Linked DNA regions of Homo sapiens: regions 1 and 3 are each reported to be linked to region 2. Evidence: microRNA targets listed by miRTarBase, many of them from high-throughput screens and not tested one by one. Region 2 holds a microRNA gene; each other region holds the end of a gene's coding sequence.

Region 1 (3,064 bases), not on the chromosome of region 2:
CAAGTTGTCTGGTGTGGTCTTCTGTGGGCAGGCTTGTTGCTGGAGTCCTTGAGCAGGCTGACCTAGTACCTAGGTCAGCAGATGGATGAGCCTGGTGCTTGCATGCATAGGATTAATCCTGGAACGTAGGTCCAGTGGAGTGGGCCAGTTGATTGGGTCTGCAGGGGTACAACCAGAGCCTGAGTCCACAAGGGCAGGCCTGGAGCCTGCATCCAGGGAGCTGACCTGAAGCCTAAAAACCTGCAGGGGTGGGCCTAGGTTCTGGGTCCATAGGGACTGTTCTGGAGCCTCAGTCCGCCAGGGCATGCCTGGCATTGAGGCTTACTGAGGTATGTGCCTGGAACCTGGGTCCACTGGAGCCTGGTGCTGAGGCACACATGGACCTTGGGTCCAGGGGTATTGTACTGGAGCCTGGGATTGTGGGTGCTGGCATGGGGGCATATAGATCAGCCTGGAGCCAGGGGTATATAGATACTGGCCTGGAGATTAGTCTCTGAGGGCTCGCTTGGATCCTGGGGCCATGGGGGCTGGCCTAGAACCTGGGGCTGCAGGGGATATTGGAGCCTAGTCTGTGAGGGCCAGCCCAGTGCTGGGGTTTACTCAGATGGGGCTGGACCAGGGTGGGGAGGGGGTGCCTGCTAGAGTGTGAGCTCATGGGTGCAGGCCTGGCAGTGGGTATGCTTAGAGCCTGTGTTCCTGGCGCAGGCCTGGAGTCTGGGGCTGGCATGATTTTGGGGTCCAATGTTCTCCTTCCTCCAAGTAGAGGGTCTCTCTCTCTCTCTCTCTCTCTCTCTCTCCACCCTGTGCTGCCTGGGGCTGGGGAGGGGGTAAGCTAGGTAATGTAAAATTGTCCCTCCTATCCTCTTTAGTACATCTTATTTCTGTGGTACACCAAGGTGCTGTAATCTCTAGAGGTTCCTTAACTCTTGTGAAGGTATTTTTGTGTGTGGACAGTTGTTTAAATTCATGTTTCTGCAGGGGGATGAGTGCTGGAAAGTCCTATTCTGACATCCCAAGTTCCCTCAATTTTTTTTAAAACAATAGTTCCCTCCTATATTCCTTGTTTCTTTTTCTTGCTATTTGAGTTTGGTGTTTTAACCAGTTCTTTTTATCAATGTAAAGTATTTAAGGCTCTGACTTCTCCACTGAGCCAATTAAGTTCTGCAAGGTGATGGGACTAACATTCTGTGCCGTCCCACATGAGCATTTCCCCTTTCAAAGTGAGAAGGAAGTAGGATGGAAAAGCTGAGACATATTCCAAATCGCTTTTGGTAACTTTACTTTTCAGGTTCACATATGTTAACAGAATCAATACACGATCAACTTGTTAAGTGATGTTACCAAATACTTATTTGGCAAAGTACATCCTTGATCAATGCCTTAGTGATTCTATAGCTAAAATATTAGATGTTTTATTTTGGGGGGAGTGGGGAAATAGCATAGACCGTCATTTAAACCTTCAGACAATTAGTGACTGTGTTGTACAAAAAAGATGGCGAAAGCCTTATCTAGATACCAAAATTCACATGTCATCCAACCTAGCTTACTCTTATTTTTTCCATCAGTTTCTAGGGCTGTGCTATCCAATACTGTCGCAAATAGCCCCATGTGGCATCGGAGCACTTATGATGTGGCTAGTCCAAACTGAGTGTTGAGGAAAGTGTAAAATGCCAGATTTTGAAGACTTTTACCTTATGTTGATGTTTTAGATATTTTGAGCTAAATAATATGCTAACATGACCTTTTTAAACTAATGTGGTTGCTAGAAACTTTCAAAATTATGTACGTGACTCGCCTCTTTCTAGTGGACAGTGCTGCTCTGTCTTCCTCCATTAGCTCCGTTCCCTCTAGATACACGTAACGCTGAGCCCAACAAGATCGCCTTCCTGTAACCATTTGAAGATAGCACCATGATGCTAGTTTAGTGTTTGCATTTATTTTAAAAATACACAAAATAGAAATTTTTACATCAAAGTGTGATAACCTCACTTACACATTGTTCCATACTTACCTGGTTTTGTTTGCATCTTTCTGCAAACATTAAAAGGAGATGGATTTGATTCTGATTTTTTTGCTATGGTTCATGTAAACAGTTGAGACTGCTACATAAAGTAGGTTGTTGTCAAAGGTGAAGTGGCCACAGAATCCCAAGAATAGAATAATTCAATTTGGTTTAATGAAATTGGTGGAGGTCTTAGCAGATAGATAATCCAAGACTAAATATTGTCTTCTAGGCATTTTAAAAATTAAGAACTTTGAGGTTTTCTTCATGTTGTAAACATAACTTAGACCTTGTTGGCATTAAGTTTACAAAAGAAAATATTAAACCATGATTTTTATCATCCTGCCCATGTCAGTATACACTCTCTTTATTATGAGAATGAAACCAAATAATAAGCAAAATACATCAGGAATTTCAAATTGTACTGCAAAGAAGGTCCCAGCTGGTCTCTTCTGGGAGTGATCTAACTAACTTAAGCTGACCCTGCGACTGGCTGAGGATAATCCCTTCTGTCCACTGCACCGTGCAATGCCACAGGTCATGAGATGGTCAGTTCCTCTTGCTCTGTGTCGTCTGAAGCAAGTCGAGGCCCTACTTCTGGTTCCGCCCTTCTTCCTTGGGCTTAGATTTGCTGGGTTAGTAGTTTGCTACTATTGTCAAGACTGTACTGTCCCTTTAAGGTACCACATGCCACCATAGCTTACACAGCAGTCCTATGAGAGAGAAACAGGGTAAGCACAGATTTTTGCAGGAAAAGGAGCTAATTACATTCTGTCCACAATGTCAACACTCGATTTATGATTAGTGAATAGAATACAAATGGGAAATCAAAAACTGCCTAACCATACCACCATGGCTACTACCAGCCACCCTTTCCTCAGGGGTAGTGTTTTTTTTTTTTTTTGAAACAGAGTTTTGCTCTTGTTACCCAGGCTGGAGTGCAACGGCATGATCTTGGCTCACTGCAGCCTCTGCCTCCCAGGTTCAAGCGATTCTCCTGCCTCAGCCTCCCAAGTAGCTGGGATTACAGGCATGTACCACTACGCCTGGCTAATTTTGTAT
Region 2 (3,128 bases):
AGTTGTAGTACAGTTTGAATAGTTGTTGTTGTAAATAGCCACTGGACTTTTTAAAAAAGTATTTTTCTTCAAAAACAGTGAAGGTCATCTTGTATCCATAGAGACCACATGTACTTTCCTCATTATTTCCAGCATTATTTATATAATGGGTAGAGTTATTTACAACATTAAACAAAAAGTATTTCAGAGAGCAACCGTTAAATATTATCACAGGGTAAATATCAGCAACTGAAATCCTTTTCTCATAGTTTCTCAAAAAATTTGGTATTAGGAAATTAATAGTCTCTCAGAATTTGTATATTGGTTTTCTTCAGTAGTTATTCTGTAGAGTGTGTGTGTACATATGCATGCTCATGTATGTATGTATGTTCATTTCTTAAATCATTTCATAAATCACTGTGACTTAATTGTGGACTTTAATTGTTTTCATAGTTTTTTTCCCCAAAAGAAGGTTACTTTACATATTTTATTTTATTTTTATTTTTATTTTTTTTGAGACAGGGTCTCACTCTGTCGCCCAGGCTGCAGTGCAGTGGCATGAGCTCAGCTCACTGCAGCCTCCACCTCCCAAGCTCAGGGATCCTCTTACCTCAGCCTCCCGAATAGCTGGGACCGCATGCACCACCACACCCAGCTAATATGTTGTATGTTTTTAGAGGTAGGGTTTTGCCACTTAGCCCAAGGCTGGTCTTGAACTCCGGGACTCAAGCGATCTACCCATCCACCTGCCTCGGCCTCCCAAAGTGCTGTGATTATAGACATGAGCCACTGTGCCTGGCAATTTTACATATTTTAAATTAAAGCAAATCTTGGTTTTTGATGGAATGCAGATTTACTTATATTTCACTTAGTCTTTTTCCTTTCTTTCAGAAAAGTGGTGTGGAAACAAAATGGTTTTAGTATATTGCCTTATAAACAAATTTAAGATCATGAGTTTCTTTTATTATCCTCTTTGTTTTGCTCATTTCCTTGAACTGTACATCCCTAACCTAAATCAGCTGGAGACAGGGGAAGAAAGTGTTAGATTCTTACTCAGTTTAGATCCTCTGCCAGGAAAACCCACTCTATTCATTGTCAACTAAATTAACGCTTTTTTAAATAAAAGGAGTCATTTTTAACAATAACGTCAGGGCAGCAGGCATCCATGAAATGTATGGTCACTGATCATTAGGGTTATCATTCTAATGTGTTTACTATTTTGAAACTCTAGGGAGAAGAAAACTTATTTTTGCATATGTTGGAAAAATGTATCCTCATGTAGGATATCAGGGTAATATCTTTAATGTTTCATACTTACCAAGATAAATTTGTAATGCGTATTTTCTTTTAAAATTAGATTTATTTAGGAGAAATTGCACTTGGTGAACCACTTTCTCTTTAATTATTAGCATTAACTTTATCATTTTTGTTTCAAGATGTCACAGCTATTGTTCAGCACTAGAAATTATATAAATTATTAGCTGAAGATGATGACTGGCAACATTTATGTCTGTTCCTCCTCTTAAATTTCTTGTTCAGAAAGTCTGTTGTTGTAAACATCCCCGACTGGAAGCTGTAAGACACAGCTAAGCTTTCAGTCAGATGTTTGCTGCTACCGGCTATTCACAGACATCCTCTTGATATAATTCTGTCCCGGAGTGGAGTTGAGGAGGCTATAAAATGTGTGGGAAAACCTCAGAAATCTTTAGCTGCATTCTTTTACTGCACTGACAGTGCACGTATTATGATAGTTGAATGTAGGGTGCTCTCCTAATAACAGGATATGCCGTCTCGAGCTTCCCAGACTTAGCGTGCTGCTGCTGGGCCTTAGAGAATTTAGTTAAATAAAAAGTGTCACCGCCTATTCCTGTTTCTGCCCTGTCAATGAAATTTTAGTCTTTATAACCTTTCCAAGTAGGCTGGAGTTTAACATCCCAACAATTCAGGAGACTGATTTTCTCCATTGTAAATTCTGTGGAAGTTCTGGAGAATAATTTCATCACTACCACCCAGCAGTATGCAATCTAGAAATTTCAGCTTTCCCTATACTTAAAAGAGATGTGTGTGCAACATTTTTCTCCGTCCTCTTAGCCCCCCACTTCCTGTTCCCCTCACCCTGAGTGATATTACAGCTCCTAATCAGAACTCTCCTCTAAGAAAAACTGCAAGACGTCAAGCCACTAAGCCTGTTTACATTTGCTAATGGGTATGCATGTCTTTTTATATTAATATTTTTCCTAAGTATTTTCAGATTGTTGCTTTCAGATTTATTGCTTCCTCCTTAAAATATAGCTGCCCTGAAAGCAGCTGTATTGTATCTATTTTTTGTGTTTCCCCACAGATCTGAATAATCCAGGGCTTTTCTCACAGATGACACTCAGTGTGGACTAATTGATAATGTATAATTTTATAGCAACTATTTTCTGAGTTTTAAAAAATTGTTATTTTATTTCTGTTAGTCTTTCAGACACTGGAAAACATTTCTATTTTATTGGCATTTTTCTTTTCAATAAAGCATTGGTTTTTTTAAATCATTTATTTTTATTAAACTGCTAAACATACTATGTTAGGTTCCATACATGATTAAACCACCAAAAGATAAAGGTCTTGCCAATCTAATGTATTTACATGCTTATTTTCTTTGATTAGATTATAAGCTTTCTGAGGTCAGAGACATTAAATCTTGATAATTCTATTTTTTCCTGTTATAAACAGCAAGTAAAGCACCTTGCATGTATAGTACTTTAGTAATGATTTTATATTATCTTATTGCAGCAGTGTCTACTGTTGCCTCTTATCTTTTATCCAGATGAGCAAATGACAGTTTTGGTCATAATGTAGTTACCCCAGATGTATTTGTGCTACAGCTTTTATTTTTTAAATGCTCTTTTGTTAGAGTAGTAGTTTATAAGACTTATTTGGGGATGGGGGTCAGTTGCTTCAGACTCAGGTGGCTTTCCAACTTGTAAATACAATTTTCAGGCTGGATGATTAGCATGCATCAAGCATCCCTTCCTATGAACTCTAAATAAAGCAGATTTATTGCATATTCTGTGGCCCTCTGTTTTAGCACATTGGAAACCTTAGACTCAAATAGCAGTGAAAGGATAGTTATTGCTGAGCTCAGAAGTCTTCCCTGCCAAAGGTAG
Region 3 (3,064 bases), not on the chromosome of region 2:
AGCTATATATACTCCAGACTAAATTAAAATCTTGGAGTTGTGGGACTGAGGTATCAGTATTTATTTTTTATTTTTTAGCAAGAAGAGGAGCACAGAGAATATTTTTTTAAAAATATAGAGCACTTCGGCCAGGCGCCAGTGGCTCAGGCCTGTAATTGCAGCACTTTGGGAAGCCGAGGTGGGCGGATCACTTGAGGTCAGGAGTTCCAGACCAGCCTGGCTAACATGGTACAACCCCATCTCTACTAAAAATATATTTTAAAAAATGAGTCAGGCATTGTGGTGAGCACCTGTAATCCCAGATACTTGGGAGGCTGAAGCATGAGAATTGCTTGAACCCAGGAGGTGGAGGTTGCAGTGAGCTGAGATTGTGCCACGGCACTCCAGCCTGGGCGACAGCGTGAAACCCTGTCTCAAAAAAAAAAAAAAAAAAAAAAGTATATATATACATACACACAGAGAGAGAGACAGAGAGAGAGAATTCATGAATTTGCAAGTCATCCTGGTGCAGGGGCCATGCTAATCTTCTCTCTATTGTTCCCATTTTATATACGTGCTGCCAAAGTGGGCACTGTATTTTTTTAGTTTCTAATGTGAAGCCATGTTAAAAACTGCTGTCCTAGATTGTGATGCTCCCAATGATAATCAAGGCACAGATAAGGAGAATTCTGTGAATAGGTTTATTAAGACCACCTAGGAGAACCTCTTTGGCAACTACCACAAATTCTAGGCCATTTAAAATCCAGGCCAAGTTCATATTTGCTCTCCATGATCACCATTACAACAACCACAGGTCACACAGTATTACAGAACAAAAGCATGGTCACTTTATTTTACCCAAATGCAAATCGTTTTTCACAACCAAGACTTTTTTCTTTCCTACAATGTTACAAATGATGTATCCAAGTCCGACTGTAATTTGGAGTTAAACAGGGATCATAGAACCAAGGAATTATCTCTGAAGCTGCTCTTTGGGCCACTGTGCCACCCCAACAGCTCTATCCTGTTGTTCTTTTTTTTAATTAAAAAATCATTAAAAAAAAAATGGAGATGGGGTCTTGCTATACTGCCCAGGCTGATCTTGAACTCTTGGGCTCAGACGTACCGATATACTGATCCTCCCGCCTCAGCCTTCCAAAGTGTTGGGATTACAAGTGTGAGCCATTGCACTCAGCCATCTCTACACACTGTTTTTCAAGGAAAGGCAGCTACACCTATTCCGTCTCCAAACCAACCCTCACCTGGTGTCCAGTTTTCTTGGAAGTCTCAATTTTTCTCATGACAGCACATTACCTAATACCTACCACATTAGGATGTTAACTCATAAAAACATACTACAAAAGCTTTAAAAAACATTTATTTGTATTAAGTAAGTGCAACAGTGCAAAGAAACTTATGCATTTGGGCCCTTGCTTCCCTACTGTTCACATTAGTTTAGTTTAGAAGATTAAGTATAATAACAGAAGGAGAACAGAAGAAATGAATATAAATATACTCAGGGTAGCCAAATCCTCTAATTCACTAAAGGATGAACCAAAGTTGTTGGCCAGATTCACATTTATGTGGGAGCCTAAACAAATTATGTTCCCTTTAACTGTTCTAGGCCTGTGGAAAAGGGAAGTGGACAACATTTATATTACAAGACAGTAATTTTATTGAAACATCTTTTTTTGTCTAAAACTATGCATGGAGATATTAATCTCTTGTTTATAAATTAGGTTAAGTCTAACATCACTATTTGAAACCAGTGTTATTTACAAAAATGAACCTCTTCTTTGCTTTATTGTTGGTTTACAGGAATAATTTTAAACCAACCTCAATCTATCTTTAAAAATCTTCCTGCCTTCAAATGCCCAGCAACCCTTATAAGGTAGGGGGCAGCCCTTTGACAGCAACATTCATCATTCACCAGGAATGTAGAACCACAAGTGAACAACAACAACAACAACAACAAGATTAAATCATTCCCAACAATTCCTATTTGCTTTTCCAAAGCATGCTATGTCTAATTCTGCCTTTCTATGCAGACAGGTGGGAGAGGGAGCCCATAGAGTATATTAATGTTAATTAAATTAACTTCCTTTAAAAGCTAACAGGATGGCTTAGTGTGGATGAGGATGAACTGCTGTGGATGACACTAGCAGATAATGAAGTAAACTTTAAACCCAGATTAGTAACATGTACTCCAGTAACTGACCAGCTCAGATAGAGACTTCTCATTTACTCTGGATCACATGTACAATATTTTACCTTCCAATTAAATATAGTGCCAAAATCTTTCAAAATAGATAGAGAATAGGCTTCTTAGAAATTCAAATAAAAATGTTAAATAATAAAAACTGGTGGCCTATTATAGAGTTTCTGACAGACTCCAATATACTGGGTACCAGAAAGTAACTCTATCTCAGATGCTAGTAAAAAGGTAAATTTTGTATATACATAAAAGACAATATTACGAGACTGTAGTGTCATTTGTCAAAACAAGAATATCTAGAATGGAATTTTCAGTAAACACTTGGGATGAAGGGCAATCAGAATACAAGAGGAAGCAAAATCCACATAAGTTAATTCCTAATTTGAGAAATCAATAGAATCAATAAATTGATAATTACTGTCTCCATAGGTCACGAATTCCAAAGACTAGTTAGTAGTTAGTTTCTAACTAAATGATTACAGGACGTTCTGATATATGCTGTCTTCTTGTGATCAGTTTGTTCTGGCAAGACTTCAACAAGCACTTGCCCTTGAAAACAGCTCAGCGGGAGAACGATCGGAGGCAATCACTTCGTTTTATAAACTAGCCAGATAATAAGTCCCAAGATTAGAATAATCACTGACAGGACAAGCACCAGGATACACATCTTCTTGCGAGATTTTTTCTGAGGAAAGAAATATGTAAACAAGATACTCATGAAACAAGTAAAATTTGTATGTGTAAGACTCTAAGAATGCTTCATAAATCTGCCTCCTTGTAATTAAAGATTAACTCTATCCATGCAAAATTATGCACAGACTTTCCCAGAAATCTTAAGTCAGCAGCACTAGGTAGTAGTGCAAGTGTTTT

Evidence for each region. The annotated mature microRNA hsa-miR-30d-5p reads UGUAAACAUCCCCGACUGGAAG and lies in region 2 at 1,531-1,552, shown strand. An mRNA with a match to its seed (bases 2 to 7 or 8) in the 3' UTR can be bound and repressed. Matches are read on the target gene's strand: a 7mer-m8 pairs with bases 2 to 8, a 7mer-A1 pairs with bases 2 to 7 and ends in A, and an 8mer does both.
Region 1: miRTarBase lists POLR3E as a target of hsa-miR-30d-5p. Seed matches in the 3' UTR shown: 8mer at 2,274-2,281 and 8mer at 2,085-2,092.
Region 3: miRTarBase lists STX12 as a target of hsa-miR-30d-5p. Seed matches in the 3' UTR shown: 7mer-m8 at 2,508-2,514.

The regions. Positions count from the first base shown.
Region 1 is chr16:22,333,295-22,336,358 of GRCh38, reverse strand. POLR3E (RNA polymerase III subunit E) reads right to left here. Exons shown (of 21, transcript NM_018119.4): 21 at 1,263-2,715. The coding sequence ends at 2,659. It overlaps LOC124903664 (a long non-coding RNA gene), which reads left to right. Exons shown (of 2, transcript XR_007065026.1): 2 at 1-2,449. Among named protein-coding and RNA genes, the nearest start is that of POLR3E, 37 kb to the right of the region's middle.
Region 2 is chr8:134,803,343-134,806,470 of GRCh38, reverse strand. It overlaps MIR30D (microRNA 30d), which reads left to right and starts at 1,526; the gene lies at 1,526-1,595. It also overlaps a transcript of ZFAT not described here.
Region 3 is chr1:27,822,046-27,825,109 of GRCh38, reverse strand. It overlaps STX12 (syntaxin 12), which reads right to left. Exons shown (of 9, transcript NM_177424.3): 9 at 667-2,879. The coding sequence ends at 2,781. It also overlaps the pseudogene RNU6-1245P. Among named protein-coding and RNA genes, the nearest start is that of PPP1R8, 7.2 kb to the left of the region's middle.